4 linked regions of the Homo sapiens genome follow. The protein of the gene in region 1 interacts with the protein of each later gene in a pairwise test. Each region holds a gene or a part of one and is shown in the gene's direction. Other genes may lie near its edges. The genes, in order: MTERF4, OSGIN1, ATXN1 and BANP.

Region 1 (7,886 bases):
GTCCCCAGTTATTGAAACTGCCTATTATGCAAATGAGGAAGCGCTCCAGTTACCTGCAAAAGCTTGGGCTTGGAGAAGGTACAAGAAGTTGCAGATTTTGGCTGGGTGCGGTGGCTCATGCCTGTAATCCCAGATCTTTGGGAGGCCGAGGCAGGCAGATCACTTGAGGTCAGGGGTTCAAGATCAGCCTGGCCAACATGGTGAAACCCTGACTCAACTAAAAATAGAAAAATTAGCTGGGCTTGGTGGCACGCACCTGTAATTCCAGCTACTTGGGAGGCTGAGGCATGAAAATCGCTTGAACCCAGGAGGCGGAGGTTGCAGTGAGCTGAGATGGCGCCACTGCACTCCAGCCTGGGTGACAGCAAGGCTGTCTCAAAAAAAAAAAAAAAGATTTTATATAGTGTGACAGGAGCCAGAGGTGGGGAAAGAGCAGCCTAAGGTGAGATGGATTAGGGGAGGTTTCTGAGTATGTCAGTGTTCCTGGAGAGGACTGTATAATTTGGCTTGGAGGTGAGGAATAGGAGTGGCTTTCTGTGCAGAATACATTTTGAGAGGGAAGGAGGAGGAGTTAAGACTAGAAGAAAAAATTGAGTGCCAGGGCAGAGACTCTTGTCTGCCTTGTTCACCGTGGGATCTTCAGCACCTAGTGCAGTGGTGGGCATATGGTATGTGTTCAGTGGGTTGATGCTGATAATGTGATGTTGATAAATATGTGTACATATAGCATTTGATGTTTAAATCAACATGAAATGGTCTTAGTGCTCTGTCTCTGTGATGTGATGTCAAACCAACATCTCTTGTAAAGACTTAGATTCTAGTCGAGTGTTTAGATTTACTCTGGAACATGAGAGATCTGGCCAGGTTCCTGGGATACTCGTGGAGTGGCCTTCCCTTCTATTTATCCCCCACTCCTGCCCCCAACAATATTCACATCTCAAGGATGCTCAAAGTTCCTTGAATCTCTTTAAGGGCCTTCTGGAGGAGTTGGGGGTCTCCAAGGACCCTTACCCACTTTGACCAGAGGAGTTCCACTATTATTTCTTTGCATTATTGACTCTTCCTGGTAAGATGTTTTTTGAGGCAGTGGTAGAAGGTTTAGGATCCACCATTTCACAGCATCTCTACAGGCCTCCTTCTCTAGAAGATAAGAAAAAGGTAGCCTTGTATATTTTTCTTAACAGATTCTTACAGTGTAATCTAAAAGTCTAAATATATTATGTGTGGTGGTGATTAATTAGCAAACTCAGCACAGCCTTAAGAAATGAAGATAAACCTAAACTGAAATTCCTCACATATTAAGATAATCACTAACTCAAATGTTAGGAAAATTTTAATTAACAGTTTAAATAGTTGACTTTAAGTTTCCCATTACTGAATTTTGCTCAGCTATCCCTAGGAAGGCCTGGAATAGTCCCAGTTTACACCAGTTAGTGCGGTTTTAATAGGGCCTCTTTCACTCAAGGTGCCCTGGCTTGGAGAAGATATATGGTGACCCTGGTAACCAGGACGTCAGCATTGGTGTTGTGTGTCCTCATGATTACTATTATTGTTATTACTGTTATGATGACGATGGTGATGGAACTCCTTTTCATTGAGTTCAGCTTGAGAATGTTAGTTGTGAATGCTTCAATGACTATTTTATTATAGAAGGAAACATCAACCCAAACCAGCAATATGGAGGAAACTACTCTCCCATATTACTCTCTGATCTTTCCAGTAAATGCCTGGGAAATTCTTTTCCAAGTGAGGAGGGCAAGAGGAGACCCAAAATACAAAGTTGGCACCTTTCAGGTGGGAGGCCAGAATAAAGCAGGAATATAGGGAGGGAAGGATGGTGAGTCTGAGGAGTGTCAGGAAGTCAGTGGGGAGATGTATCATTTCCATGGTGCTTCTGGGAAGATAGATCTGAAATTGCCACTTGCTCTGTGGAAGGAGAGGATCCTTGTTTGTTTTTAAATGTGGACTTAAATTGGGTGCAGCTAGCTCCTTGAGTTTCTGGAGTATCCTGAAATTATATGCTTGCCTTTTTTGAATGTTCTGCAGGGAAATTAAAGAGGGTGCTTTACTGTTGCCCTGAAATTTTCACCATGCGCCAGCAGGACATTAACGACACTGTCAGGCTTCTCAAGGAGAAGTGCCTTTTCACGGTACAGCAAGTCACCAAGATTTTGCACAGTTGCCCCTCTGTTCTTCGAGAGGACCTGGGTCAACTGGAATACAAGTTTCAGGTGAGAATGACTGATAGCGTGATTAGCGTAGTTTCAGGTGAGAATGACTGGTAATGGGATTAGCGTAGTTTCAGGTGAGAATGACTGGTACCGTGATTAGTGTAGTAACAGCAAGTTTCTCAGGTTTTTCAAATGTAGTGAAGGTCAGTTATATGGATAAGAAGCCTCGGACACCTCATATTTGAGTGGAGGAAGTGAAAGACTAGATTCTCTGCATACATCAGCCAAAGAGAAATCTTTAATTTCTTTACTACAGATCAAACCTATTCTTCAACTTTTCTGCCATTAATAATGAATGATCCAGTCCTATTCTTAGAGTCTAAGTGGGGACTCTGAAATAGCTAATTTTAAAATAGCTGAAACCTTCCTGTCCTTAGAATCTATTTTGCATGTTGATTTTGAAAATGTAATTTTAACAGTTGTCCGATTTTTTGGTAATAATTATGACAACTTAGGTCGAATTTCTAGATGTTTTCTGAATGTTTTGCCTATTCTTTCCATATTCATCCTTTTCCTTCCCCATTTAAAGAAAAATACCACCTCTTCCTTCTGCCCCTTCTCCCTCCTGCCCCTTTTCCCTCCCACCCCTTTATTTCCTGCTCCATGTTTCTCAGGATGAATTTGAAAGTGTTTTGAAACTGCTGGCTGTCACACAAATGTCAGTATCCTAGACTGGGTATTCGCTGTTGTCAATTAGGCAATTCTTTTTGAATCCTTTTGTACAACTTAAGTTTTTATGGTTTATAGAATGATAGGTTTCAATACTCTGTATCTGGGACTCCTAAGTGTGTTTGTGTCTTCCAGTATGCATACTTCAGGATGGGAATTAAGCATCCAGACATTGTAAAGAGTGAGTACTTGCAGTATTCACTAACCAAGATTAAGCAGAGACACATTTACCTGGAGCGCCTGGGACGGTACCAAACCCCTGATAAGAAGGGGCAGACACAGATCCCTAACCCATTGCTCAAGGACATTCTCAGAGTTTCAGAAGCTGAGTTTTTGGCCAGGACAGCCTGTACTTCTGTTGAGGAGTTTCAAGTTTTTAAGAAGCTCCTGGCTCGGGAGGAGGAGGAGTCTGAGAGCAGCACATCTGATGACAAAAGGGCAAGTCTGGATGAGGATGAGGATGACGATGATGAGGAGGACAATGATGAGGATGACAATGATGAGGATGACGATGATGAGGACGACGACGAGGCGGAGGACAATGATGAGGATGAGGACGACGACGAGGAGGAATAGCTGTGATGGAAGGACTAGAGCGAAAGGGCCCAGAGATATCAAGGAAGCTTTTCATTCTCTTAAAGCTTTTGGGTCCTTTACTTGAATCTTCTCAAGTTATTTTTTATTCTAAAACTGGTCTCTTGATGAAAAAAATTATAAGTCACCTGAGAGGCAGACAGATCAAACCAAACAGGAAACAGGAAATGCATGTTTGATCTGTTGTCACGTGTCTGTGGGGAGGGCCCTGTCCCATCCTGAATAAGATACTTATGTTGAGCTATTCACATCAAGGGGACTCAATATATCAACAATTGGTTTTATTTTTTTCTCTTTTGAATATGTTGGTGATAATTCCGTGACAGTTGGAAGATGGGGTTCATTCTTCCGGTTCAGGAATCACTATGTATTTCCTTCTTGTGATAAAAATAAAATTACGAGAAGGCAATGTGAGGTTTTAGTACATCATAGCACTTTATTTTATGAAAACATGTAGCAGATTTTCCACAAAAATGCTTATTTTTAATCCAAAAGTATATTGCTTCATAATGGTATTCAGTGCACAGCAGAGTAAAAGAAGTTAATTCATGATGTACTGGTTAATTTTGCATGGCTTCTTAAGGCCAGCAAAATGCTGGCAGTTTTCTTTATCTTTGTGAAGAACAGGCCCTTCCTGTTTGGGGAAGTTGGCTTTTATGTCAGCTCTTGGCCAGTGGTCACTTCCAAGCCTGGTGTCTCCGGCCCTGTAGTCTGTAGTGCCAGACTGTGCTGGCCTGGAGAGTGCTGGGGCAGGTGGAGGCCAGGGAATGGTCCCATACAGTTATCTCCCCTGCCCTGGTTACAGACAGCTTCGAGAACCAGAGGAGAAGAGCATAGGGTCATGGAGCAGGTGGGCTGAAGCCAGGGCCACAGGGAGCAATCCGTGACCCCCCAAGGTGGGTGTGGGGGGGGGGGGGGGCGTGTCACCTTAGGGAACTCAATGAGTCCGAAGAACAATTTGAAATGTTGGGAAAAGAGAAGAGGAATTTGATGTCAGCCGGGGTGATCCCTGAGATAGAGGCCTGTCTCTGATGGCATGAGCTCTAAGAGGGTCCTGGAGGATTGGTACATCCTAGAACATTCCAGTTAGCCCTCTTTTAGGGGAAACTGGCATAGGATTGATGCAGAAGGCATTTTTGATGATGGGACCAAAATTCAAGTCTCCTTGGTAGCATTCTAGGATCAACTAGATCCTAGGATCTGGTAGATTGTAGGATTCTAGTGGGTAGAGGCCAGGGGTGCTGTGAAACATCCTGCAGTGCACAGGATGGTCCCACAAGAGAGGATGATCCGGCCCAGAATGTCAGTGCTGAGCCTGAGAAACTCATCTAAGGCCTGGTCCACAACAGTAATGTGACTGTTCACTCGTGACAACTTCAGATGGTAAATGGACTTAGGATCGTATTATTTTATTTAAAAGAAAAATAAGGAGCTGGTTTTTCAGCCGGGTTCCTTTCCCCTATGCACTGGAATACCCCTGGTAGGTGTGAGCTGCATGCAATTGTGGGGATTCAGCACTGAAATCTAGGTGCTTTTGTTTTCTCCAGCAGCCTCGTCTTACAGCGTGACTGCAAAGAAAAAGACTTTTGTTTTGCAAAAGAAAAGCAGCTCGGTGACTCCGTCCACATCGCCACAGTTGAGTCAGATGGCAGTGGCAGTCCTTTGCCAGTGGAAGGAGTTCCTGCTAAGGGGAGGTGCAGGAGGTGAGCTGATACCTGAGTGGGGCCCTTGCCTGTTGGGTTCTCTACTGGAGGACAGTGGGCACAGCAAAGATTCCCTTACTTGTACCTGGCAGCCCACACGCAATGGGGAAAAGGGAGAGTTTGTCTTTATTGCCTTGCTTGGCCATAGGCAAAACTGTTTGGAAATGAGACATTTCACTGTGCCAGTGTTTTCATTTTCTCTTCCATTGTGGCATCCCGGTCACTGCCACCCTCCCTAGAACCTAGGCTGTTGTTGTACCCAGTCGGAGGACTAAGTAGAATCCTCAGTCTGCACTTGGTTAGATGATCAGTCCATCCCGGTTTCATTAGCAGATGGGTAATTCAGCAACTCAGGATTGCTTCTTTCATTTTGATACAGAAATCTTTATGCTCCTGACAGTTTTCTGATTCTATTATTACTAATTTCCTTGGGTGGACTTTGAGTATTTTCAAGGAAGCCATTTGAGTTTTTAAAAGAAGCCACATGGGAAAAGCTGTGGTGGCCTCTTTGGAATGTTTCAAGAACGAACTGTAATTCCTGAGCACCAGGAAGTCTTTTTACTTGATATTTAATGTGGAAAACATCCCAATGGGCAAGTCCTGTGACAGCACTTGGGACTCAGGAGCCAGTTCTTGTTGACACAAGGCTTCTAAGCTAACACTGGAGCATATTAGCATTTGCTGTGTGGCACCAAGCTTGGGACTCAGGAGCCAGTTCTTGTTGACACAAGGCTTCTAAGCTAACACTGGAGCATATTAGCATTTGCTGTGTGGCACCAAGCTTGGGACTCAGGAGCCAGTTCTTGTTGACACAAGGCTTCTAAGCTAACACTGGAGCATATTAGCATTTGCTGTGTGGCTGAGGGGCTTGAGGTCCTAGTAGGGAGTAGAAAGTTTCCTAGTAGGATTCACCTACTTTTCCAGTGATATCACTCGATCTTAGCATCTGCTAGTAATGCTGTAGCTTACATGGACAAACAGTGACAGGTCCCAGGGCGGCAGGAAGTCCGCAGTACGCGTTTGTGAACGTGGTTTCTCTCAGTTCACCCAGTGACCCTTCGCTGAGCTCGAGACCCTTCATTGAGCTCCACCTTCTGCTCTCAAGTGGGTCTGGAGCCTGGGGAACAGCTCGGGAGTACAGGTGAAACTTCGCGAATTGCCTGTTCCTTCTTTCTGAAAATGACAAATTGCAGAATACACAGACACATGCACATGAAATTTTAATAAAGATAAAAAGCCTAAAATATACTCTAACTCTTCAAAAAACATTTTTATGAAAGAGGAAAGGAAGGAGGCCCTCTTTGTGGCTGGAATGCTGGCTCTGAGCAGAGTCAGGGTGACGCGGCAGGGCGCTGGCTTTCCAGCTGGGTCAGCGGTCGTGAGGCTCAACACGAGAGGAGGTGGGGTGGCTGCTTTGGTTGTAACATTAGCAGGGGGAAGACAGCTGCTTAGAAGCATGGTGGGAAGCAGATGTGGTGAAGTGCCGTACTGTTCTGCTTACAAAGATGGGGATGTCTAAGATCGTGTTTACTACCTGATAGCCTAAAACAGTATCACTTGAGTCATGGACTAAAAGGAACCTTAAACATTGTCCAGCCCAGCCCAGGTGTCCATCTCTGTTGCACTGAGACTTGTAAGGCGTCCTTGCTGCTTCGTGGCAGTGTGCCTTAGCTTTCCAAGCAGGGGTCTGAATAGCTTTTTCCATGAAAATTCAGGGGTCTTTCTTTGATACCCTTGTGACTTGTCATTCAGGGGATGGCTTCCACTGTTTAAGGCTGAAGCCTAGGTGATCTCATAGAACAGGGTTCACCAAATAAGGCCCATGGGCCAATTTGGCCACCACCTGTTATTGTAAATAAGTTTTTATTGGAACATAGCCGCAGCCATTCAATGACATGCCTGTGGCTGTGTCTGCGCTACTGTAGCCACAGGGACCTCTGGTCTGCAAAGCTGAAAACGTTTACCGTCTGACCCTTGATAGAGAAAGGCTGCCAGTCGCGCCGTTGTCTAAAAAAGTCTGAACTCCACCTTAGTGTTAACTAGTCCATAGGATGGCTCGTCGACCTGCACGAGCGTCATAAACACGCTGGAGGACCAGAGCAGGGGCGGCTGTGTCTGCAACCCGGCTTTCCTTCTGACATCACCTGGTCTCTGCCCTTCAGCCCCTGCCCCCGTCTCTGTTTTGGAAGTGGTCCATCACAGTTCCTTCTCAATTTGTTGGGCCTCGAAGGGAGAATTCTTTCTCTGGCTTTGGAGTCTAAGAACAGGTTTCTGCATACTGCAGAAGCGTGGCTGACTGACAGCCTCACTGATTCCGGGGAATGGCGAGCTGTCATCTCATCCGCAGAGACACAGACTACACCTTCAGGAACTGCAGCTTGGGTGAGGGCACAGGCTGCTTAAACGCATCGCAGGACTCACAGGTGGTTGGTCCCAGAGGGGTCTCTCAGGGTGGGCTGGTGTGTGCACAGGCCTGGCCATCTGTCCTCTAGAGGCCTGAGGAGAGAGGTCACAGAGGGGACTGACTCCAGCTAGGACCTTTTCTCAGGGTGTCCTTTTTCATCCAGTTTTTAGACCTCATCTTCCTGGGTGTTAGAAACTCGTGAGGTTGGTGGAGTGTAACAAGAACGTCTTAAATCCTTTGAAGAAAAAACAAAGTGAAGCATGAGGAGAATGACAGGCATTCCCA
Region 2 (7,169 bases), on another chromosome or scaffold:
CAGGTCCGCTGCCAGCCCCAAGCCCCCCACCAGCCATGAGCTCCTCCAGAAAGGACCACCTCGGCGCCAGCAGCTCAGAGCCCCTCCCGGTCATCATTGTGGGTGAGTGTCAGGCCCCAGCCAGGGAGGGGCTCCGCTGAGCCTTCCGGGTACCCCCCAGGTCTGAGGGCAGGAGCTGGGCAAGTCCAGGCCTGGTGTCTTTTTTCGTTTTTGGGGTTTATTTTTTATTTATTTATTTATTTATTTATTTATTTATTTGAGACAAAGTCTCACTCTGTCGCCCAGGCTGGAGTGCAGTAGTGCAATCTTGGTTCACTGCAACCTCTCCCTCCCGGGCTCAAGCGATTCTCCTGCTTCAGCCTACCAAGTAGCTGGGATTACAGGTGCATGCCACCATGCCCAGCTAACTTTTGTATTTTTAGTAGAGATGGGGTTTCGCCATGTCGGCCAGGCTGGTCTCGAACTCCTGACCTCAAGTGATCTGCCTGCCTCAGCCTCCCAAAGTGCTGGGATTATAGGTGTGAACCACCATGCCTGGCCCAGGCCTGGCCTCTTTACAGTGGTCTTTAAATTAAGCCATTGAGCGTTTACTATGTGGCCAGTGCTAGGCTTAGCAGTTTATAAGCTATCATTCCCTTTCACACTTCCGAGAACCCAGGGGTCTAGAACACACCCATCAGCTGGAGGCGACCCGGCGTGGCGCAGGGAGGCCTGGTCCTGAGCCCACACTGATCCCATGACTACCCTGTGCCCAGCACTGTGCTAGGTGCCCACATGAGAGGACACACAGTAGCGGCTTATGATTCCTGTCCTCTGTCTGCACAAATGGGGACAGATGACCCCCCAGTATGCAGGCGTCCGATTAAGCCACGTGAGATGGTCATTTCTGTAAGGCAAAAGCAGATGGGTGCCTGTGATTTCATATGGTTCTTCCTGGTATCCTGCATATGAGTAATATTCCGAATCAGACGAGATAAGAAGAGGGGAAAGGACAGATAAAAAGAGAAGCGCTATCACAGGGCTGTGCCTGGTGAATCGCCCAGGAAGCGCCACAGATGGCAGCGCAGTTCTTCAGACGTGCAAGCAGCAGACCCAACAGGCGGCTCAGCACCCCTGAGCGCCCACAAGCACCCACCACTCAAGTTCGCCCCCAGGCCACGTAGCAATCTGTGCTACATTCACTCATCCATCTGACCTAGTTCTTAGCAATCTCAGAATCTCAGTCGCGTCGTCAGATATTCCCTCTGTCTGGGTTTTAATCCCGGCTCGTCTACCTTCCGGCCGTGTGACCACAGGCAAGTAACTTAACCTCTCTGTGCCCATTTCCTCAAGTATAAAAGGAGGAAAAGAGTGGCACTTACCTCGCTAAAGCTGTTGTGAGGCTGTTGTGAAAGCTCTCAGTACAATTCCTGGCACAGAGTAAGCTCTCAGCAGTTGTTCATTCCTTCTTTTTAAAAGTATTATTAGGCACAGTGTCTGGCACAGGCTAAGGGCTTAATAAATATTTATTTTTATGAATGAAGGATAAATGAATGAATGCGCCGCATCTAGATCAAAGCCCTCCACAGTAGTGTCCCCCACCTGAAAAGGCCACCCCCTTTAACCTCCACCCTCTCTCCCCAGGTAACGGCCCCTCTGGTATCTGCCTGTCCTACCTGCTCTCCGGCTACACACCCTACACGAAGCCAGATGCCATCCACCCACACCCCCTGCTGCAGAGGAAGCTCACCGAGGCCCCGGGGGTCTCCATCCTGGACCAGGTGGGTCAGCCTGGGGCCAGAGCTCTGGGTAGTACATACCCGCCCTTGGAAAACTACCGCCGCTTTCCCAGGGAAAAACAAAAGTGTGTGTTTGCTGGAAACAAGACTAAACAAAGAATTCGAGAGTCCACAAAGTCAGCCACGGAGATCGTGAAAGAGAAATCAGAGACCCACAAATGCCACACGATCTAGGGCTCACTATGCCCTAGGCCGGTTGTTCTCAAGGAGGGGATGATTTTTCTCCTCGGGGGGCACCTGGCAATGTCTGGAGACAATTTGGGTTGTCATGGCAGGGTGACGGTACTACCAAATCTAGCAGGGTGGAGGCCAGGGATGCTGGCAAACATCCAGCACTGCACAGGACAACGAGGGTGGTGAGACTGAAATATGTGTGGTGGAGCTTCTCAACCTTGGCCCCACTGACATTTGGATGACTTTGTTCTGGCTACAAAGAATGATCTGGCTCAAATGTCAGTGCGGCCAAGGTTGAGAAACTCCACCACAGATATTTCAGTCCCACTACCTCCTGCCCACAAGGGTTTGCAAATCCTCCCTCCGTACCCCTTGTCTTCCACTGTGCTCCTCCACGACCTCCCCTTGTCGACCTCCCTCGTCAGGCAGTGTACATCCTCCTGTTCCCTTCCCGCCCCTGAGTTGGAGATGAGGAAATAGGTCTTGACCATTTGATCTAGATCAGCATTTTTCAAAGTGCTCTCTATAGAATACTAGTTCCTCAGTATAATATAGAGAGAAAAATGTCCCCACTCCAGTAAAACAGGGACACACTGGGTTTGGCAAAATTAAACAGGTAAATGATGGCTGCAGGACTTGTCAGAGCCTTTAATATGCCCGTCTGTGTTATCTGCTGTTAAGAGGCAGCACCTCCCAAGCTGATCTGACCACACTGATATTAGGGTAGGGATGTAGGACCAGGCAATCGCTCCAGTCTCACCCAAGCTTGCGCATTTGGTCTGTACTCTGGGGCCCTTGGCCTCCTAGAAAGACCTCAAAACGAGAGCTTCAAACTACCCCCAGGGTGCGCATCTCTCTGAGACCCTCCAGTGCCAGGGAAATGGCCCGGCCCCAGTCCCCACGTTCCTGCCCAGCCTCAGGCTCTGGGAAGACGACCCCGCCCTCCTCCAGCAGCCCCTCTGACCTATGCCCCCCTCCAGGACCTGGACTACCTGTCCGAAGGCCTCGAAGGCCGATCCCAAAGCCCCGTGGCCCTGCTCTTTGATGCCCTTCTACGCCCAGACACAGACTTTGGGGGAAACATGAAGTCGGTCCTCACCTGGAAGCACCGGAAGGAGCACGCCATCCCCCACGTGGTTCTGGGCCGGAACCTCCCCGGGGGAGCCTGGCACGTGAGTGGGGCAGCGAGGGCATGGCTTGTGGGGGGCTCTCTCCCTCGTTCTCCCCACTTGGGGCTGGGACTCTGGCATCTCCCTTTCCTCATTCTCCACCCCGCAACCCTGCCTCTCCCTCCTCCCTCTACCCAGCCCCAGCAAAGGCCTCCCATGCCCTCTAGCCCCAAATGGGTTCAGGCGAGCAGAGGCCTGGACCAAAGGGTTCCTTTCCCTGCAGTCCATCGAAGGCTCCATGGTGATCCTGAGCCAAGGCCAGTGGATGGGGCTCCCGGACCTGGAGGTCAAGGACTGGATGCAGAAGAAGCGAAGGTGAGGCCGCCCCGGAACGCCTTGGGGGACACGGAAGGTTGGGCCTGTGAACCCAGAAAATCTGAGACAGGTCTCAGTTAATTTAGAAAGTTTATTTTTCCAAGGTTGAGGACGCGCCCGTGACAGCCTCAGGAAGTCCTAATGACATGTGCCCAAGGTGATCCGGCACAGCTTGGTTTTATACATTTTAGGGAGACATGAGACATCAATCAATATTTGTAAGAAGTACATTGGTTCGGTCTGGAAAGCTGGGCCAGCTTGAAGCAAAGGCAGGAAGTGGGGAGGGGGCTTCCAGGTCGCAGGTAGGTGAGAGATAAACAGTTGCATTCTTTTGAGGTTCTGATGAGCCTCTCCAAATGAGGCGATCAGATACGCATCTATCTCAGGGAGCAGAGGGGTGACTTGGAATGGAATGGGAGGCAGGGTGGCCCTCAGCAGTTCTCAGCTTGACTTTTCCCTTTAGCTTAGTGATTTGGGGGATTTCACAGGCCCCCCACAGTGAGCCCGTGAGCCAGAGGTACAGGGGCTTCAGAGTGCATCTGGTCTGTCTTCCTCTTCTTCCAGAGGGGGAAACTGAGGCTCAGATAGGGAAAGGACTTGTCCACCCCACATGAGTGGGGGTGAGCAGCAGAGCTGGGCTCACCCGAGGACCCCCTGTCCCGTGCAAGCAGCAGACCGCCCTGTCACATGGCCCCCAACTGGGCCTCCCCATAGTGCCCCAGCCTCTAAGGAGGGGGTAACACCTGGCCCCTGAGCCCCACGCCCTGCCCCGTGCCTCTGGCACAGGTCCCCCAGTCCTTGTGGTCTCCCTTCAGCCCTTTCCTCTATTCTGAGCCTGGCCTAGAACAATCTTTCTGGGTCAGCTAATAGGGTGACTTTCTTTTTTCTTTTCTTTTTTTTTTTTTTAATGCTTTTGCTACAGGTGAGTTTCATCCTTAACCATGAGCCCCCAAGTTGGGTAAATTAACTCACCTAAGGTCATGCAGGTTATTGGAAATGCAGAAGGAAAACAGCTCACCCCAAACCCACACTTCTCCACGCCCTTTCACTCCTGGGGTATTTTTTCCCCATCTGGCTTCCTGCCCCATCATGGCCACCCTAGAGAAAAGGTTTGTGAACCCTGAATATTTGAGATGGGTCTCAGTTAATTTAGGAAGTTTTGTTTGTTTATTTGTTGTTTGTTTTTAATGAAGTCTCCCTCTGTCGCCCAGGCTGGAGTGCAGTGGCGCGATCTCAGCTCACTGCAAGCTCCGCCTCCCAGGTTCAAGCCATTCTCCTGCCCCAGCCTCCCGAGTAGCTGGGACTACAGGTGCCCACCACCACACCCGGCTAATTATTTTTTGTATTTTTAGTAGAGACGGGGTTTCACCGTGTTAGCCAGGATGGTCTCGATCTCCTGATCTCGTGATCCGCCCACCTCGGCCTCCCAAAGTGCTGGGATTACAGGCGTGAGCCACCACGCCAGGCTAATTTAGGAAGTTTAATTGCCAAGGTTGAAGACGCACAACCATGACACAGCCTCAGGAGGTCCTGATAACATGTACACATGGTGGTCGGGGCACAGCCTGGCTGTATACGTTAGGGAGACTTGAGACATCAATCACTATATGTAAGATGGACATTGGTTCCGTCCAGAGGCGGGACAACTCCAGCAGGGAGGGGTGTTTCCAGGTCTCAGACAGGTGAGAGACAAACGGTTGCATTCTTTCGAGTTTCTTATAAGCCTTTCCAAAGGAGGCAATCAGGTGTGCATTTATCTCAGTGGGCAGAGGGAAGACTTTGAGTAGGACGGGAGGCAGCTTTGCCCTAGGCAGTTCCCTGCTTGACTTTTCCTTTAACTTAGTGATTTGGGGGCCCCAAGATTGATTTGCCTCTCACAGTTTCAATCACTGAATAAAGGAGTTCTAGTCCCTGCTCCTCCTGGGGTGCATCCACTCAATGAGAAGCTGCCCCAGCGCAGATACCTGGGTGCAGTCTGCCTCTCGGGAAGCCCTGCTTCCTCCGCCCCCAGGGCTGTGACCAGGCCTGTGTCCCCAACGGCAGGCACTCCAGGCGTCCCCCTCCAGGCCTCACTATCTCTTTGATGCGAAGACTCTTCTGCATGTTTGGCAGGAAGACTTCCAGGTTTGTGTAGCTACATGTTAGTAGGCAGCCAGAAACTTACATTTCGCTTGTAAGCACAGCCTTTTATAGGCTCATTTTGCATTTTCACATTGTATCCCAAGCGTTTCATGTGGTGAAGTCACAGCGTTCAAAACCATCCTTTTACATGGCCTCACAATATTCCCAAAGGCGAGTGAGCATCCCCAGTCCAGCAAATCTTCACCGAATGCTTATTATGTGCCAGGCCTTGGGCTTAGACGTCAGAGCACAAAACCACCGCAGACACACCCCCTGCCTCATGGCACTGCCAAGGTTACCCAGCCCCTGCCAGCCCTGGAGCATTCATTCTTTCCATTGTGTCATTATTATAAATAACTCTGCACAGAACATGCTCTTGGGACCGTTCTGTGTCACAATCTTTACAAAAACTGAGAAAAGAATGACTGCCCACAGAGATAAATTCCAGGGTCGCAGACGGGCTGCGCTGGGTTGACTGGCACGGCCTTGGGGGTCCATTGTCAGCTCCTGCTACATGTAGCCGGACGGCAGGTGGCACAGGATTCTCCCGTATGGGAGTTCATCTTGAACCATGAGCCCACAAGCTGGGTAGATTAACTCATCTAAGGTCACACAGTGAGATACAGGAAGGTGCTAGAATGATGCAAAGCCTGTCATTCAACCGCCACAAGAATGGGCCTGCAGTCACTGCCCCTGGAAAGAGTGACAATCCAAACAACAACAACAATAATAGAATACCTCCTGCTGCTGCGTGGGCTGGGAACGATGGTGAGTGCGTCACATGGGAGTCTTTAAATCAACTTTAAATCAACTTTTTGACTACATATAGGCTGGGTGCGGTGGCGCAAGCCTGTAATCCCAGCACTTTGGGAGGCCGAGGCTGGTGGATCACTTGAGGTCAAGAGTTCGAAACCATCCTGGCCAACATGGCAAAACCCCATCTCTAATAAAAATACAAAAATTAGCCAGGTATGGCGCTGCATGCCTGTAGTTCCAGCTGCTCAGGAGGCCGAGGTATGAGAATCACCTGAGCCCGGGAGGCAGGGGCTGCAGCGAGCTGAGATCACACCACGGCACTCCAGCCTGGGCAGCAGAGTGAGACTCTGTCTCAAAAAATTAAAATAAAATAAAATAAAATAAAATAAAATAATAAATTGGCTACATATAGAAAAGTACGTAACTCCTGTGAGTACAGGTTGATGAAATTTCTCAAGGTAAGCACAGAGAATGAAGAAGCAGGCCCCCTCCCAGAAGCCCCCATGCCCTTTCTGATCAGGATCCCATTCCCCATCCCCGGAGGTAACCCCTCTCTTGACATCCAGCTCCATAGATGAGTTCTGCCTGTTTCTGAACTCTGTAAAAATGGAATCATACCATATTTAATCATTTGAGGTGACAATCATGGTGGCCTATCCTTACATGGCACTTACTTCCAGTCAGGTTCCATCCTAAGCACTTTGTGTTTGTCAGCTCACCAAATCCTCCCCACGACCTCACGAAATAGGTCCTGCCACCAACATCTTCCTCATTTTGCAAACTGGGGAAACAGACACAGCTCCCTGATGGCAGAGTCAGGATTCGAGCCCAGGCAGCGGGGCTCTGGAGGCTGCCC
Region 3 (7,169 bases), on another chromosome or scaffold:
TATATTTTATAACGCTCATAATTTGAACTTTCAGGCTAATGTACTATAAATATTTGTATTACGCATTACTACCATCCCAAATGTACCAAAACACGTTTAGAGAGAACAATTATGGACAAAAAAGCAACAAGCATTATATTTTGTTTGACATATTTCATGTTAGCAGAAATGTTTCATTGATTTTTCTGTAACTTTTAATGCATCCCATTTGTGGAGTAATGAAAATGTAATGATAATTGCCACAATGTAAGCAAAAATTGTATCCTACCTGAAAATTACTTTCCAGAAAATTCATGGTAGTGTACTCAGAATTTGAGACTCAAGAGGGCAGAGGTTTCCCCGATTGTGATGTTTTGATTTGGGCTAAGAGGAACTCTTTTTTTTTTTTTTTACACTTAGGTGCCCTTTAACATGACAAGTTTTGAATGAGTTAGGTAGCAGAAGTTTTTCGTGACAGTTATTGTAGCTACTAACCTATAGCATCTATCCTTCTAACGTTCAAAGAAAATATATTTTTCTGTCACTGTGTATGGCAAACTTTATTTTCTTGTGCCCTTAATTTTGTTCCCCTTTCTCACATTATCTCCTGGTACTTACTGACCATTACCTCAGTTTTGTTTAGGCCGTCTTTCTTGTTAATCTTCCAATATTAATAGTATTGTATTATGTTGCTCTGCTGGGTTTTAAAAATATTGAGTATTCCATTTTTGGTGTATATTATTGTATAAAATGTCCTATAAATTATTTTCTGGTATATTATTTTGTAAGTTTTTGCAGTGAATACGTGCTGCCTTGCTTGTATTCTTGCCTTCTTCCCTCTGATGGAATACAAGTTATGTAAACTCTCTGTATTATCCTAACTAGTGCAGCAACACAAATACTTTTGAAATAAGAAAGCATACTCATGCAAGAGTAAAGTAATCTTCTATGGCATTTACATCATGTTTGACCCTCCTCTGCACTTCAGCAAACTAGGAGGAGGTTGTAACTTGGACTCTATAAAACCTTATCTGCCAGGTGATATGTAAACAGGATTGTGTGCACACACATTGTCATATAGGCAAACACTCTCCCAACTGGTGAGCTCATAAAAAGCACTGTCTGTAAATTTATGGTACCTGCACCTCATTTGAGAATCAAGTATTTTGATGCTTAATTTGAGATGACATCATGATCCTCCCTCCCTGCTTCCTCATCCTTAAAGAAGTACTAAGATTAAATAGAATTTTGTCAACTTCTACTTAACTTGGCCATTATTTATATTTGTAACTCAACAGGCTTCTTGGTGGAGGGACTGTGCCTTCTAAAGATCTGAAAGACCTTATAGTGTATAACAGCTTACCTTCCTTCTCTGTACGCACAGATCACATGTGGGGAAACCAAGGACTACAAGAATTCCTTCTTTTGCATATCAGTCCTCGGCAGGCAATCAATGCTTAAATAAATGCTTGGTGAATGGATTAGTTAGAAGTAAGAACATTTTGGCTACTGTTCATTACTTTGAAAAGTGCTGGAAAGAAGTGGAAGTTATTTTCCTTTCCAGCTGGGCTGTGCTCTTAAAAATAGTGAGTGTGTATGGATGAAAATAATCATGAGTACCGAGATGTGTTGCCATGTACCCAAGGATAATTGGCTCACTTACCTGTTTACGGATTATTCACATTGGAGATCATATTCATAGCTCCAGAATAGTTTCTTTCTGACATCCAATATAAACCTGGGCCTCCTTCTTCCTACTGTTACCTGGCGTGAGCTTAGGAAACCCAAACTAAGTTTAAAATCAGCCTAAGCAAATGTGCAGATCAGCTCCAGTAATCAAAGACTGAAAATCAGTCCAGCATTCACTAGTTTGGGGATGATTTTATAGTAACCCTGCTACTGATTTTAAAAAAATTTTTTTTTCTGTTTAATGTGGATAATTGGTAATTACCGGTATTTAAGAATATAATTTTAATGGATAGGGCTAAAAAAATACGTTAGCAGATCGAGTCCTCAACTTCTTCCGTTTCTATGCATAGGTTTTACCTCACAAAAACTACTACAAGCACCAAGCTCCCTGATGGAAAGGTATATGGAAGATTCATTCATTCTTTCTTTCATTCATCCATTCACACATTCACTCATTCATCATACAATGGAAAATTTTTACTTAACCATGTGCAAGGAATTGTGGCAAAATGAAAATGAGATGTACATTCAGTATTTAAATAAAGTTTAGTGGAAAGTTTAGTGAATATAAATGCACACTTTACACTTTTTTTCTGCATTTTTTCCTTTCTTCTATTCCATTGGACTGGTATGCTAATAGCTGTGCACTTTCATCATTGTGTTTCAAGTTGCATGTTGATAGATAATATATGCCACATTAAAATTAGGCTTTGGCTCAATTACTATTCAATCCATGCCCATTTTCACCTGATACTCCTTGTAGTTACCAGCATGTGTTTATCAGATGATTGGCTAGAATCATTGGAGAAAAGAATGACAGCGGCTGGCTCAAATGGGGAGACCATCCTCTTAATTTGATGGAAGGGATGACCTTTTTGTATGTTGGCCTCCCTCTGAGCCTTGTTGAGTAAAACCAGACCTGCCTTTTGAGCTGGCTGGGATCTGTGTAATTCTCATACAACAGAATGCCGAATGTGATGTTCTTAAAATTTGTATTTCGGTGCATAGACACTTAAGGTGGACTTATTTTTTAAAGCAGTCTATTCTGTTTTTCATTTTGGATTTCCTCTCCTGCACTCCCTCGACCATTGCAGGAGCATCGTGCATCAAGTCACCAGGGTGGTCCATTCAAGCTGCAGATTTGTTTGTCATCCTTGTACAGCAATCTCCTCCTCCACTGCCACTACAGGGAAGTGCATCACATGTCAGGTGAGAGTTTTGCGATGCTCTCTGTTTTCCATCTGAGGATAAAGTCCTGACCTGGAAAATTGCCTCCTAGCCATGCTCCCTTACTTTGTTGGCTGTTGAATATCATTTTCTTTGCAAACTCTGTTTGGGCATAGTGTGGGAAGTTGAGAAATTGCCAAGATTGTTTTTTAAAACTTCGATTAAAGTATCTATCTATTTGGTTTAATCTATATGTTCATGAAGACTTTCATTTGACTTTGCGATGATTGATAATTGCCAATTGGGGCTTGAACCTCATCATTTTAATTGTCAGTTTTCCTTAATACAATTAAGAATGCTATGCTACCAGATATCTTAAGTCACAGTTTTTGCATTTTAGATTACTGTTGTAGTATAATATGTGCGTAGCAAAACAGAGACCTATTTGTTTAGGGGAACCAGTATTTGTTGAATCTTGAATTTCTTTGTGTCTGTTTGGATTTTACAACTTCCTGATTTTCCCACGTACAGTAAGTTTTTCTGGCCTGGAGAGTCATGCAGACATAGGGTGTATGCAATGGTGATGACTCATGGTTCTCTATTGAAGAAAGGGCCAGAGGATATTGCCTCAAATTAAATCAGGAAGGAAAAAGAGGTTTGCTAGAACTTGGGGCAGTAAGGGCTTGGGAACACAAGGGTTTGAGTGTATGTAACCAAGGGAGATTGTGAAATAGAAAATAGGGGATCAATTTCTATTTGCCTTGGAAATGGACCTGCTTGAAACTGTGAAGACAGACTAGATTAGAGGTTCCCAAGCCTGGCTAGGCAACAGAATCACCTGGAGAGCTTAAAAAAATAGAATTTGGAGCTCCACCCTAGACTTGATGAATCAGAATGTTTCCTGCTGGAATCATTGATCTGTCTAGGCACTGATGCTCCACAGGTTTGGGAACCCCTGGGTCGGCCGGTCTTCCAGCAACTCTTCCTAAGTTATGTTCTGTAGACTTAGTTGGTGAGAAGCTCATTCTACTTTTAGCAAATCTCCCATTTGAAAATTTGAATTTTCAAAACTCATTTTTCAAGAGGTAGATGGATATTTGCTTTATAACAGGTTCATTTAAACAATAATTGACCAGATTTCTTTGAAGAAAGAGCTGCCTCTTTACCGTAAGAGCCAATTTTTAAGTTACATATAAATTCTCTGGCATCTTAGATAAGAGCATGGAGCTCCGTAATCAACCCATCTGGACTTAAGATCTGGAGCTGCCACTATGACCTTGAGTAGTCCTATGTCCTTTCAATGCCTCAGTTTATTCATGTATAAGATGGAGGTAATATTAGAACTTTCTTATAGGGCTGCTGTGAGGATGGACTGGAGTAAAATAGTAGATATACTGTGGGTAGAATAGTACCTGGTGTATGGTTTGTATCTTTTAACAGATGCTATCAAGTAACTTATCCCTCAACAGGTTGATTGTTATGGTCATGTTTTATGATGGTTGCTCCTGAACCATACATGACTAGAAATATGTAAATATACCTGGACCTTGGTCTTTGGACCCACCCTGTAGACATCTACGGCTCTGCAAAGCCAAGGAGCCTTTTATTTGTTTTTGCTGAATTTTAAATTCTGAATTTATCACAACTCTCTGACTGATGGGATGCATGTGTGGTTTTTTTTTTTTTAGATTGTTGTAAAATGAACTGATGAATTGCATGCATAAATGTGGTTATTTGTGGTCTGAGTAAAAATAAACAAAAACCTGAGTGACTGAAGTATTATGCCTCAGGAAAAACAGCCAAAAAAGTCCCAGTGGGGGACAAGGTGGAGGAGGGAAGAGTCATCACAGACACGATACTCTTGTAAAATATGGAACTGGATTCCTTACATTTTATTGGCTGTGGATTAGAGAGGTGTTCTTTAAGTGGAAATGTAACCTAAAGTTACATGCAAAGGTAAGCCTCTTAAGATCTACAAGTGTCAGCTGAATGAAAAAGGTAGGGTGGGCCAGGCACAGTGGCTCATGCCTTTAATCCCAGCACTTTGGGAGGCTGAGGTGGGTGAATCACTTGAGGTCAGGAGTTTGAGACCAGCCTGGCCAACATGATGAAATCCTGTCTCTACTAAAAATATAAAAATTAGCCAGGCATTGTGGCAGGTTCCTGTAATCCCAGCTACTTGGGACACTGAGGCAGGAGAATCGCTTGAATCCTGGAGGCAGAGGTTGCAGTGAGCCCAGGTCTCGCCACTGCACTCCAGCCTGGGCGACAGAGTGAGACTCCATCTCAAAAAAAAAAAAAAAAAAGAGAGGAAAGAAAAGAAAAAGGTAGAGTGTCTTACTGCTACTTTATCTCTTAGGGATGATACTCATTTTAACGGTTATGTGCTAGGCTGAAAATCCTCACATTTAGATCTTTGGGGAAATAGTTTAATTGCAAATGGGTTGAGTACACGTGCATTTTTTTTAACCTGTGGTGTTGAAAGGGAGTCATTTGTGATAACAGAAATATCTCAAGAATTTTATTGTGAAAAAACAGGCAGCAAAAAGTCATATCTCTTGGTCAATATGGGCAGCTTATTGAGAAGAGACCTAGGTTTTTATAATATGTTAGGCAAGTTTAAGTGTCTTATGAATACTAAAATACTGACGAAGTAGCGCAAAGTCACCTTGAATTTTAAGCGCTGACATTTTCTATGATTGCATTTAAAGAAAGCTTATAAGCATTATCTAAACATTTTGCATCAATAATGGCCTCATTACAGTCCTCACGATTGACGGCTCAACGTAGGCAGAAAAATAGTATCATTCATGTTGTACTCTTTTATATTCATTCAGTTTTTTTCTTAAACCTACATTATAGTTCTTTCTGGTTCTAGTTATTTTATAAATATGATACAGCTATAGCAAGTTATGACCTAACTTGTTCACAGTCACTATTTATGTAAAGAAATGATTCATTCATTTATTCATTGTGAATTTTTTTAAAACTACTGCATGGTGCTGTGGGAATGGAAGTGAATAAGAGCTACCGGAAGGCAGTTATTTTCTTCCTGGTCAGGCAGGGGAAAGAAGAAACTCTCTGAAATAATGAATACGAATAGAATGGGGTTCTAACAGTGTTCTAACAGTGAAGGAATTCAGAAGAGTGACGCTGAGTAGGAGTGATCAGGAAAGACTTTGAGGAGGAGGGATCACTTGAGTTGAGCTCTGCTGACTAGATTGCATTTCTGTGGGAAGAGATGGATGGAGCATGAGGAAGGCCATGTGTGTGTCTGGGACATAACAAGCCAATGCACGGTATGTAACTGACCAGGACATTTTGACTGAAGCCTAGGTGCTGGTGGACATCTGAATTTCTGGATTCGAGCAGACAGTAGAGAGTATGGGAATAAAACTGCCGAGAGGTCAAGTCTGAAGATAAATTTGGAGGAGTCCTTGGCATAAAAGTGATCTTTGAAATTGGGTTCTTGGGCCTGGCAAAAAGTTTGACACCCAGGAGGGGGATGACTGAATTCAGGGATGACGTCAGCTGGTGTAGAATGTGTAGAGAGAAGGTAAGAGGCAGCGGAGAGTAGCTTCAACATTGATGTGGCATGGCCTTCGTCTGCCTTCTTTTCATGATCTGGGGTGAAGGAGGCTGGGTGGCTGGAGGAGTTGGGTGATGTATGCGTGGGCCATAAGGACTCTTCTGCAGCTCAGGCACCTTGGAAACTCAGTGCTGAACTACAGTTCAATGAAATCTTGTCAAAACCTCTCTTCCTTTAAGACCTTTAAAAAAATAGGAACTTGAGCTAATTTTAGCTAAATCTAATGTGTGTGTGTATAAAAATGAATGCTGCGTTTGAAATTCAGCGTATGCGGTATCTCGTTAAACAAATGATCCTTCTATTTTCCTCTAAACAGTTTTATTAAGATTTTCAGTGAAGCCCTGTACGTTTTAACAACAATTCCAGCATTTCTTTGATCTTTTCTACCGTTGATTTATTCATCTCACATGATATGCGTAAATCACAATGTGCCATCTACTTGACTCTGTAGCAATTGTTCATTTGTGGCAATTCATTTACTGTACTTTGATAAACCACATTAATTTGGGTGTGTTTTGTAACTTTAGAGGATTCCCTGGAGGCTTTCTGCAGACTCTTTAAAATGTGAGATGTGTGTGTTTTTGTGCGTGCGTGTATACTGTATATACCTAGCTACTAGACACAGCTCTTTGAACAATTTGGCTTCCCATTTATACTTTATAGAAAATAAAGAGATATAGAATTGGTGAATCTTGGGTCTGGGGAGAAAGTTAGTCTAAGACTTCCTGATGTAAAGTGAAAGAGA
Region 4 (7,169 bases), on another chromosome or scaffold:
AGGGAAAAATAAAACTGTAGCCTCTCGGTGGAAAAACCCAGCAGATACTGTGTGAAGCAAGTGATCGGGGTAACACCATCAGTCATAAGACGTTGACACCAAGGACCCAGTGAGACACATCACTTCTCTGGCAGTGTTGCCAGAAATGCAGTCTCATCATGAGAAAATGCTGCACCCAAACTGAGGGATGCTCACCACAGTCCTGGCCAGTGCGTCTCAAGTGTCCAGGTCTTGAAAGACAGGGAGGCTCAGAATTTCCTGCAGGCAGGTGGCCAGGTGATGTGTGTGCACCCTGGTCCACACGGAAGGCCTTCCCACAACCTTGAGGGAGGTGAGGGAGTAGGGGTTTGGGGGCTCCAGGCACAGGTGCTGGGCAGTGGGCCTCAGTGGTCTTGCAGCTCCCCCGTCAGGATTGTTAGCCTTTGGGTTCCTCGTCTGCAGTGATACTGTACAAATCCCAAAAACTCCAGTTACACGATTAAGTGATTGACATGACATGGAGTCGCAAGGCTGACTTGAAAATGACTGTAACTCACAGCACCAGTTTAGCCACTGCAATCTAGAGAAACTAAACATTTCCTCATTTTGAAGGAAAGACTTCTTGGGGAAAGTCAATTTGAGGGTTTGAATGAGAATGAGATGAAAGCTTTAGAAGGTCCTCCCTGTGCCTGAGGTAGATAAACATCTGTATTTTCTCTTCACACGGGTGACGGTGGTGAAAGCATGACATCATCTGACTTGGTCAGCAGAAGTGCTCTGAACCATCCGGAACTTTGGGGGCCTGGGGGCCGTGGGGAGGAGTTTCAGGAAGTTGAAAACAGTATTGGGTGGAATCACACACTTGCAATTTGCTCTGAAAAAGCTACACTTGTTTTGTTCTCAGCTGCACCTGGGGCCCTTCAGCCCCTGCAGGAGAAGAATGGGGCGAGTGATTGGTACGTGGCCTTCCCAGCCTGCAGAGCCGCCTGCTTTGGTTGTAATCATAGGCAAGCTCAGCCTGCTTTGGTTGTAGTCGTAGACAAGCTCAGGTTTCCGCCTCTGCACGTCCCGGTGGGCTCGCCTGGGACTCCCTTTGTCTGTTGTACAAGACTCCACTCTGGCCCCCCCTTTGGAAGAGACGATGTCTCCATCCTCAGGAAGTAGAGAAACACTCTCCGCCACCCTCCATCCTGACCCCCGTGCAGAGGATGAAGTGCTGTCCCAGAAGCCCCCTCTCAGGGGTGCCGTAAGTCTCAGAGAGAGGAGCACCCCGGGGCCTCCGTGGCAGAATCCTGTGAGTGTCTTTGGTTAAAATGTGCAGGAAGTGTTAACTCCTAAGCTGCCAGCAGATGGTGTGCCGAGATACTGTGAAGTCACATGAACTTGATTCCTGTTGGAAAGAACCACTCTGCAATCCTTCGCGTCTACACTTCGTCAAGAACCGTCCAATTTGATTAAACATTCTGGATCGTCAGCGTTCACGGTGGAGCAGACTCCACGACTCGCTGCTCCCATGGGAGGTGTCTCTCTGGGGAAGGGGTCAGTGGTGGTGGAGGATGGCGCGGTGCTCCATTCGGAACCCACAGGTCGCCAGCTTACAGCGTGGGAGCTGTGGAAGGACACATGGAGCAGAGGCGGCTGAGGAGGTGAAAGGCTGAGAGGAGGCTGCAGTGAAACACCTGAGGAAGGCTGGGCAGAATGGATCGGGGGTGTGTATTGGCTGCAGTCACCTCCCCTCTGCTCGTCTGTGTCCACATTCTGTCGTGGTTGAGACCGGATCCTGTGTGGACCGGGTGGGCTGGTGTGGAGTCCTGTCAGGAGACCTGGGGCGGTTTTGAGGCAAGCTCACGGAGGCCTGCCGCAGGGCCCTGCGCTGACAAACCTTTCGCTAGTGACCAGTTACCTTCTGTGTCTGAGAGAAGGCCGTTGTGGCCTGTAGTGATTTTCCTTTTCCCTTGAGATGAAAAGTCATCAAATATCTGGAAGCAAAGCTTAATCTTTCTGAAAGTAGAAACGCGTTTGGATGGAGCCGGGAGGGAGAACTGGGTGCGCGCTTGGCATTTCCTTGCCGGTGTGAATGCGCTTCCCGTAAATATGGCAGAACGCCTTCACCTTTCACCAGATGACGCGGGGGGAATTGGGCCACGGTCCCTGCTGTCATCATGGCATGCTGCAAGCTCTGTGGGCGCTGGTGGCCAGGATGCGGACAACCCCTGCCGCTACGTGTCCTCAAGTGAGCTCAGCTCTTGTGTCGGTGGGAGCTGGCGGTGGGTCCCTGAGCAGAGTGCTGCCGCTGCCAGTCTGCGTTTTCTGCCGAAATGCGTCCCTGAGATTGAGAAAGTTCACACCCTAAGTGTTTTTAGAAGGCTGGGTGCCCTGTTTCCCAGCCAACAGTTGTGACTGTCAGTGGGCAAACACAGTTTGCAATAATTGGCCTGTTGTCTTACAATTTCTGGCTCTCCTCTTTGTGGTGTAGGTCATGTTAGGTGGTGGTCCTTGGTCGTTTGTGCCACGTTCCCTCATGTTCTTGAACTCTGAGTCCCTAGAAACTGACATTGGTCTTATTTTGAGTGCATTATTTTTCAAACTTTGGGTCTGAACCCACATCAATTGAGTGGGCCATGGCCAGTGTTAAGAATACTGGATAAAATGGAGCATGCCTTGGATAAAAGGAGCATGGTTCGGAGTGGCTAACGGGTAGGTATCGACTCAGGAAACTTGCAGTGATGAGTGTATGAACTTACCATCGTAGGCCCCAGTCGAGAGCGTGGAAACCACTCTTCTGTGATGTGTGTCTACTAGCGGGTGGTTATGCACAGCATTTGACTGAATTTGGGTAACTCTGGATGTAGTGTATAAAGTACTTTTTAAAAGGCCATCCACTGGGCCAGGCATGGTGGCCCAAAGCTCCCAGCGCTTTGGGAAGCGGAAACTGGAGGATCACTCGAGCCCGGGAATTGGAGGCTGCAGGGCTGCAGTGAGCCATGATTGCACCACTGCACTCCAGCCTGGGCGGCAGAGTGAGACCCTGTCTCAAGAAAAAACAAGCAAAAACTATTCCCGTTAAGCCGCTTGCTTAGGGGTGACTGTGATTGAACATGTGGCTTCTCATCCAAGTTGATTTTAATCTCTATGGAGATCAGACTAATAACCTCACAGTAGAAAATCCACCAGTGAGCTCAGCGGCACAAACTCACAGCCCAGCAGTGTTTGCAGAGGGGAAGGCCCAGAATGCGTGGAGGCTTCGGGATCCATCCTTTGCAGACATAGAGAATTCTCATGGGGGAGGGAGGACCTTGCGGCGCCTTGGCAGTGAGGGGAGCAACCTCAGCATGATGTTGGCACGTACACTGGGGACTGGGTGGTGACACCGTGCATGCCCACAGGGGTGGAGATCTTTGTGGAGTTCACTGATGGATCCCAGAGGCCCAGGACGGGATGGCACGCTTTTCTGTGAGGGTCAGAGTGTAAGTGTTTCTGGCCTTGTGGGGCGTGGGATGTCTCGTGCCACTGTGAAGCCGCTCGACTCTGCTGTTGGGCTGAGAAGCAGGCACCTTGTTTGTGGACGCTGACATTTGAGTTTTATGTAATTTTCTCATCATGAAATATTGTTCTTTTGTTATTTTTCTGTTTTAAAATGTAAAACCCATTCCTGGCTCACAGGCTGCATAGAAGCAGGTGGAGAGCTGGGCTGGGTTGTGGGCCCTCACGTGCCACCCCCTGACCTAGAGTGTGTTTGCCCTGGGAAGGAATAAGACGAGGTTGTGTAGAGAGGCAGTGGCTGGATGGGGAGAGGCCTGGGCCCTGCACAGAGGAGCTGAGGTGTGAGGCTGCTTGCGAGGGAGGCGGCTGACCAGGCTTGGTACTAGCAGGCTCTCCGGGGAGGAGGCCCCCTGGAGGAACAGCGCTGGCGTCAGCCACAGAAGGGCTTAGCGGCCATGGTCTTCCTGCTGCAGCCCGTGTGGTTTTGGGAGGGACACATGGAGCATTGGAGGACAAAGAGACGGCCAGATCGGAGTGTGTGTGGCAGAGGGGCGATGCCACCCTTCGGAGCGATGGGTGCCAGGGTACTCGGTGAGAGCCCAGGTCCCGGGTGAGGGGGTGGGCTGAGGGGGAGTCAGAGAGGGAGGAGCCTCGGGATGCGGAAGGGCGAGAGCAGGGCGATGAGGGTGGGGCCGCAGGGAGGTGGCCGGGACTCCTGGTAGTATTCTTGGGGAGAAAGATAACAGGGAAGTGAGGAGGGTTCAGCTGTGGAAGTGCTGGGATGGCTGATCCGAGTGACCATGGCCTAGACGGGGTTTAAACCCTGGACTGAAGAAAGTGCCGGTGAGAGGTCAAGGCAGGAGATGGAGACCTGGGGGTGACAGGTGTCCCCGGCACCTCCTACCCCCACCCTGGGAGACAGTCCCAAGGGGCACCTTCACTGGGGGCTGGCCCTCATGCACACCAGCCAAACCTCCTGCCCACCTTCTGGGGGCTTCTGGAGCAGAGCAGAGGCCCCGCGGACCGTGAGGATGGCCACAGGGAGGGGAGATGCGAAACACTGGCCGTGGCAGGTGCCCACGCAGTCAGGAGCTTGCTTGTGGGGCTCTTGTCTGACACCTGGGAGATGAATTTCAGTCTGATGGTGGATCTGGACCCAGATGGCTTGCTTGGGATTCAGCAGCTCTTGGGAAGAGCCACACTTGAGGATGGGCTTGGGTGAGGGTTTGGAACGTGCTTAAAGAGGTTGGCAGGCAAGGATTTGGTGGTAGCAGGTGGGGCACATCGTGTATTGGCAGGGTTTTGTTATTTTTATCCTAAAGACATACTTATTTGCAAACCTTCTATTTTGGAACATTTTGAGATGTATACATATGTGGCAGAGATAGCATAGGGAGTGCCCTTGTGCCTGGTACCCAGTTTCTCCCGTTGCTAACAAGACGCATGACAGCAGTTCATGGCACAGTGTTGGGTGTGCCCCGGCCAACTCAGCAGATGAGCTGTTTCACAAAATCAGTGATTCTGCTCTGATAAAATGGCAAGTCCACGGAAAGCACTTTCATTGTATTTTGAAGTTGGGTGGTTGTTGAGGGATTATTTGAGTTGTAGTTGAACTAGCTGCTCTTTTCATGGAACACTATAAAAAAATAATTTACAGATTACTGACATCTCTTACTAAATGAGTGAAGTTAGCCTCTCACCTCAAAGAAGTCAGCTAACAGTGTTTGTTGCCAGTGATAAAGTTTGAGCTGTCAAGTGAAGTTGGAGTTTTGGAAAGTTTGTCTTTGCCACCGTGAGCCCGAGAGCTCCCAATAAATCAGATGCCAGTGCTAATGCTGATGAACCGTATGCTTTTGATATTATAGACTGAACAACATTTGCAAGAGCTGCCTAACTCGGTGAAGCAACATTTTCCAGATGGTCGATGCGGGATCACGCCTGGGTAAAAGATCCATTTAGAGTACAAGTCAAGCCAATGGATCTTAAAGCCATAAAGTGCAGAAGCTCATGGATACAGTTCACATTCCATATTGCAAACAGCCTTTAAGGAAAAATAAAACACACTTGTTGCGTGTTGGTGTGGTGTCAAAGAGGAATCTCCATAATTATCTGAAGAGCCTATTAAGATACTTTTCCCTTGTCTAACTGCATCTCCTTGTAAGGCTGCATTTTATTTTATTTTTTCGTACTTTTTGTAGAGACAGGGTTTTGCTGTGTTGCCCGGGTTGGTCTCGAACTCCTGGACTCACAGAATCTGCACCCCCCCGGGCCTCCCAAAGTGCTGGGATTACGGGCGTGAGCCACTTCCCCTGGTGAGGCTGCCTTTTTGTCATATGCATCGACCAAAACAACATATCGGAGCAGACCACCGGTGGAAGCAGATAGGAAACTCTAGTTGTTTTCAATTAAGCCGGGCATTAGAAATTTGTAAAAATGTAAAACAATATTATCCCTCTTCTCATTAAGGTTTTGTTGTTCTTTGGAAGCTATAGTTATTTTTCATAAAACATGTTTTGTATGTACCATGAATGTTTGTCCCCTTTGAAACTCATGTTGAAAGCTGGTCCCCAGTGTCACAGTATTAAGAGGTGATTGGATCATGAGGGCTCAGCCCTCAGGAATGCGTTCAGTGCATTTATAGACTAATGGGCTCTCCTCGTGGTGGGTTAGTGATCATGACAGGGCGTCTGTTATAAAAGCCAGTTTGGGTGTCTCTCATATCCCCACCAGCAGGAAGGCACTCCTCAGATGGGACCCCTGGACCTTGGACTTCTCAGCCTCCTGAACTATAAGAAATGCATTTCTTAGGCTGGGCGCAGTGGCTCATTCCTGTAATCCCAGCACTTTGGGAGGATGAGGTGGGTGGATTACCTGAGATCTGGAGTTCAAGACCAGCCTGCCAACATGGTGAAACGCTGTCTCTACTAAAAATACAAAAAATTAGCCTGGTGCAGTGGCGTGCGCCTGTAATCCCAGCTACTCTGGAGGCTGAGGCAGGAGAATCACTTGAACCCGGGAGGTGGAGGTTGCAGTGAGCCGAGATCATGCCACTGCACTCCAGTCTGGGCTACAGAGCGAGACTTGGTCTCAAAAAAAAAAAAAAAAAGAAAGCACATTTTTTTCCTTTATGTAATAAATTACCAGTCTCAGATACTCAGTTATAGCAACAGAAAACGGAGTAAGACAGCGTTAATATGTAATGTGTTAATTTGTATGATTTTTACATGAATTAAAAAATATTCAAACATTTTTTGTTCTAATTTCAAATATGGTAAATATCGATAGGTAGAATCTGTACAGGTGCAAGCTCTTCAGGACCCTCAGTAGCTTTAGAATGGTGAAGAGGACCCTGAGGCCAGAAAGTCAGAATTACTGCCTTAGAGCCTAGACGCTTCTTAAGATGTGTCCCTGGAAATTATGCATGCTCAGGTGAAATTATGCATGCTAATATATTCAGGTTTGGAATTTGACCACTTACTTACAAATTTGAATTTTTCCTCCCTTTCCCCCGCAAGCACACATTTGGGGGGCCATCTTAAAGAAAAAGCAGTGTTGCCTGAATGACCCCAAGAGTAAGTGGGAGCCGTCGGGAGAAGTGTTCTTGCTTCTTTCTGATTTCCCGCCTATCTAGCATCCGATCAGTCATTTATAGTTTTCTTTCCAGTTATTTCCCATCTCATTCTTGTACGTTCCACTTCAGACTGATT

The links.
Region 2: the proteins of MTERF4 (region 1) and OSGIN1 interact in binary tests that used the Homo sapiens proteins (3 or more experiments, as listed by UniProt).
Region 3: the proteins of MTERF4 (region 1) and ATXN1 interact in a two-hybrid assay, tested with the Homo sapiens proteins (one large-scale study listed by BioGRID and IntAct).
Region 4: the proteins of MTERF4 (region 1) and BANP interact in binary tests that used the Homo sapiens proteins (3 or more experiments, as listed by UniProt).

Annotation. Positions count from the first base shown.
Region 1 is NC_000002.12:241,091,588-241,099,473, reverse strand, and holds the end of MTERF4 (transcription termination factor 4, mitochondrial), read left to right. Parts: coding exon 1-78; intron 79-2,046; coding exon 2,047-2,231; intron 2,232-3,035; coding exon 3,036-3,476; 3' UTR 3,477-3,903; downstream 3,904-7,886. UniProt on the Homo sapiens protein: Regulator of mitochondrial ribosome biogenesis and translation. Binds to mitochondrial ribosomal RNAs 16S, 12S and 7S and targets NSUN4 RNA methyltransferase to the mitochondrial large ribosomal subunit (39S).
Region 2 is NC_000016.10:83,957,637-83,964,805, forward strand, and holds part of OSGIN1 (oxidative stress-induced growth inhibitor 1), read left to right. Parts: intron 1-3; 5' UTR 4-35; coding exon 36-102; intron 103-1,623; coding exon 1,624-1,760; intron 1,761-2,932; coding exon 2,933-3,124; intron 3,125-3,344; coding exon 3,345-3,436; intron 3,437-7,169. UniProt on the Homo sapiens protein: Monooxygenase catalytic activity. Involved in regulation of cytokinesis; promotes RHOA activity, probably acting locally at the midbody in late cytokinesis.
Region 3 is NC_000006.12:16,748,941-16,756,109, reverse strand, and holds part of ATXN1 (ataxin-1), read left to right. Parts: intron 1-2,018; exon of another isoform or gene 2,019-2,067; intron 2,068-2,762; 5' UTR 2,763-2,877; intron 2,878-7,169. UniProt on the Homo sapiens protein: Chromatin-binding factor that repress Notch signaling in the absence of Notch intracellular domain by acting as a CBF1 corepressor. Binds to the HEY promoter and might assist, along with NCOR2, RBPJ-mediated repression. Binds RNA in vitro.
Region 4 is NC_000016.10:87,955,689-87,962,857, forward strand, and holds part of BANP (protein BANP), read left to right. Parts: intron 1-4,182; exon of another isoform or gene 4,183-4,305; intron 4,306-7,169. UniProt on the Homo sapiens protein: Controls V(D)J recombination during T-cell development by repressing T-cell receptor (TCR) beta enhancer function. Binds to scaffold/matrix attachment region beta (S/MARbeta), an ATC-rich DNA sequence located upstream of the TCR beta enhancer.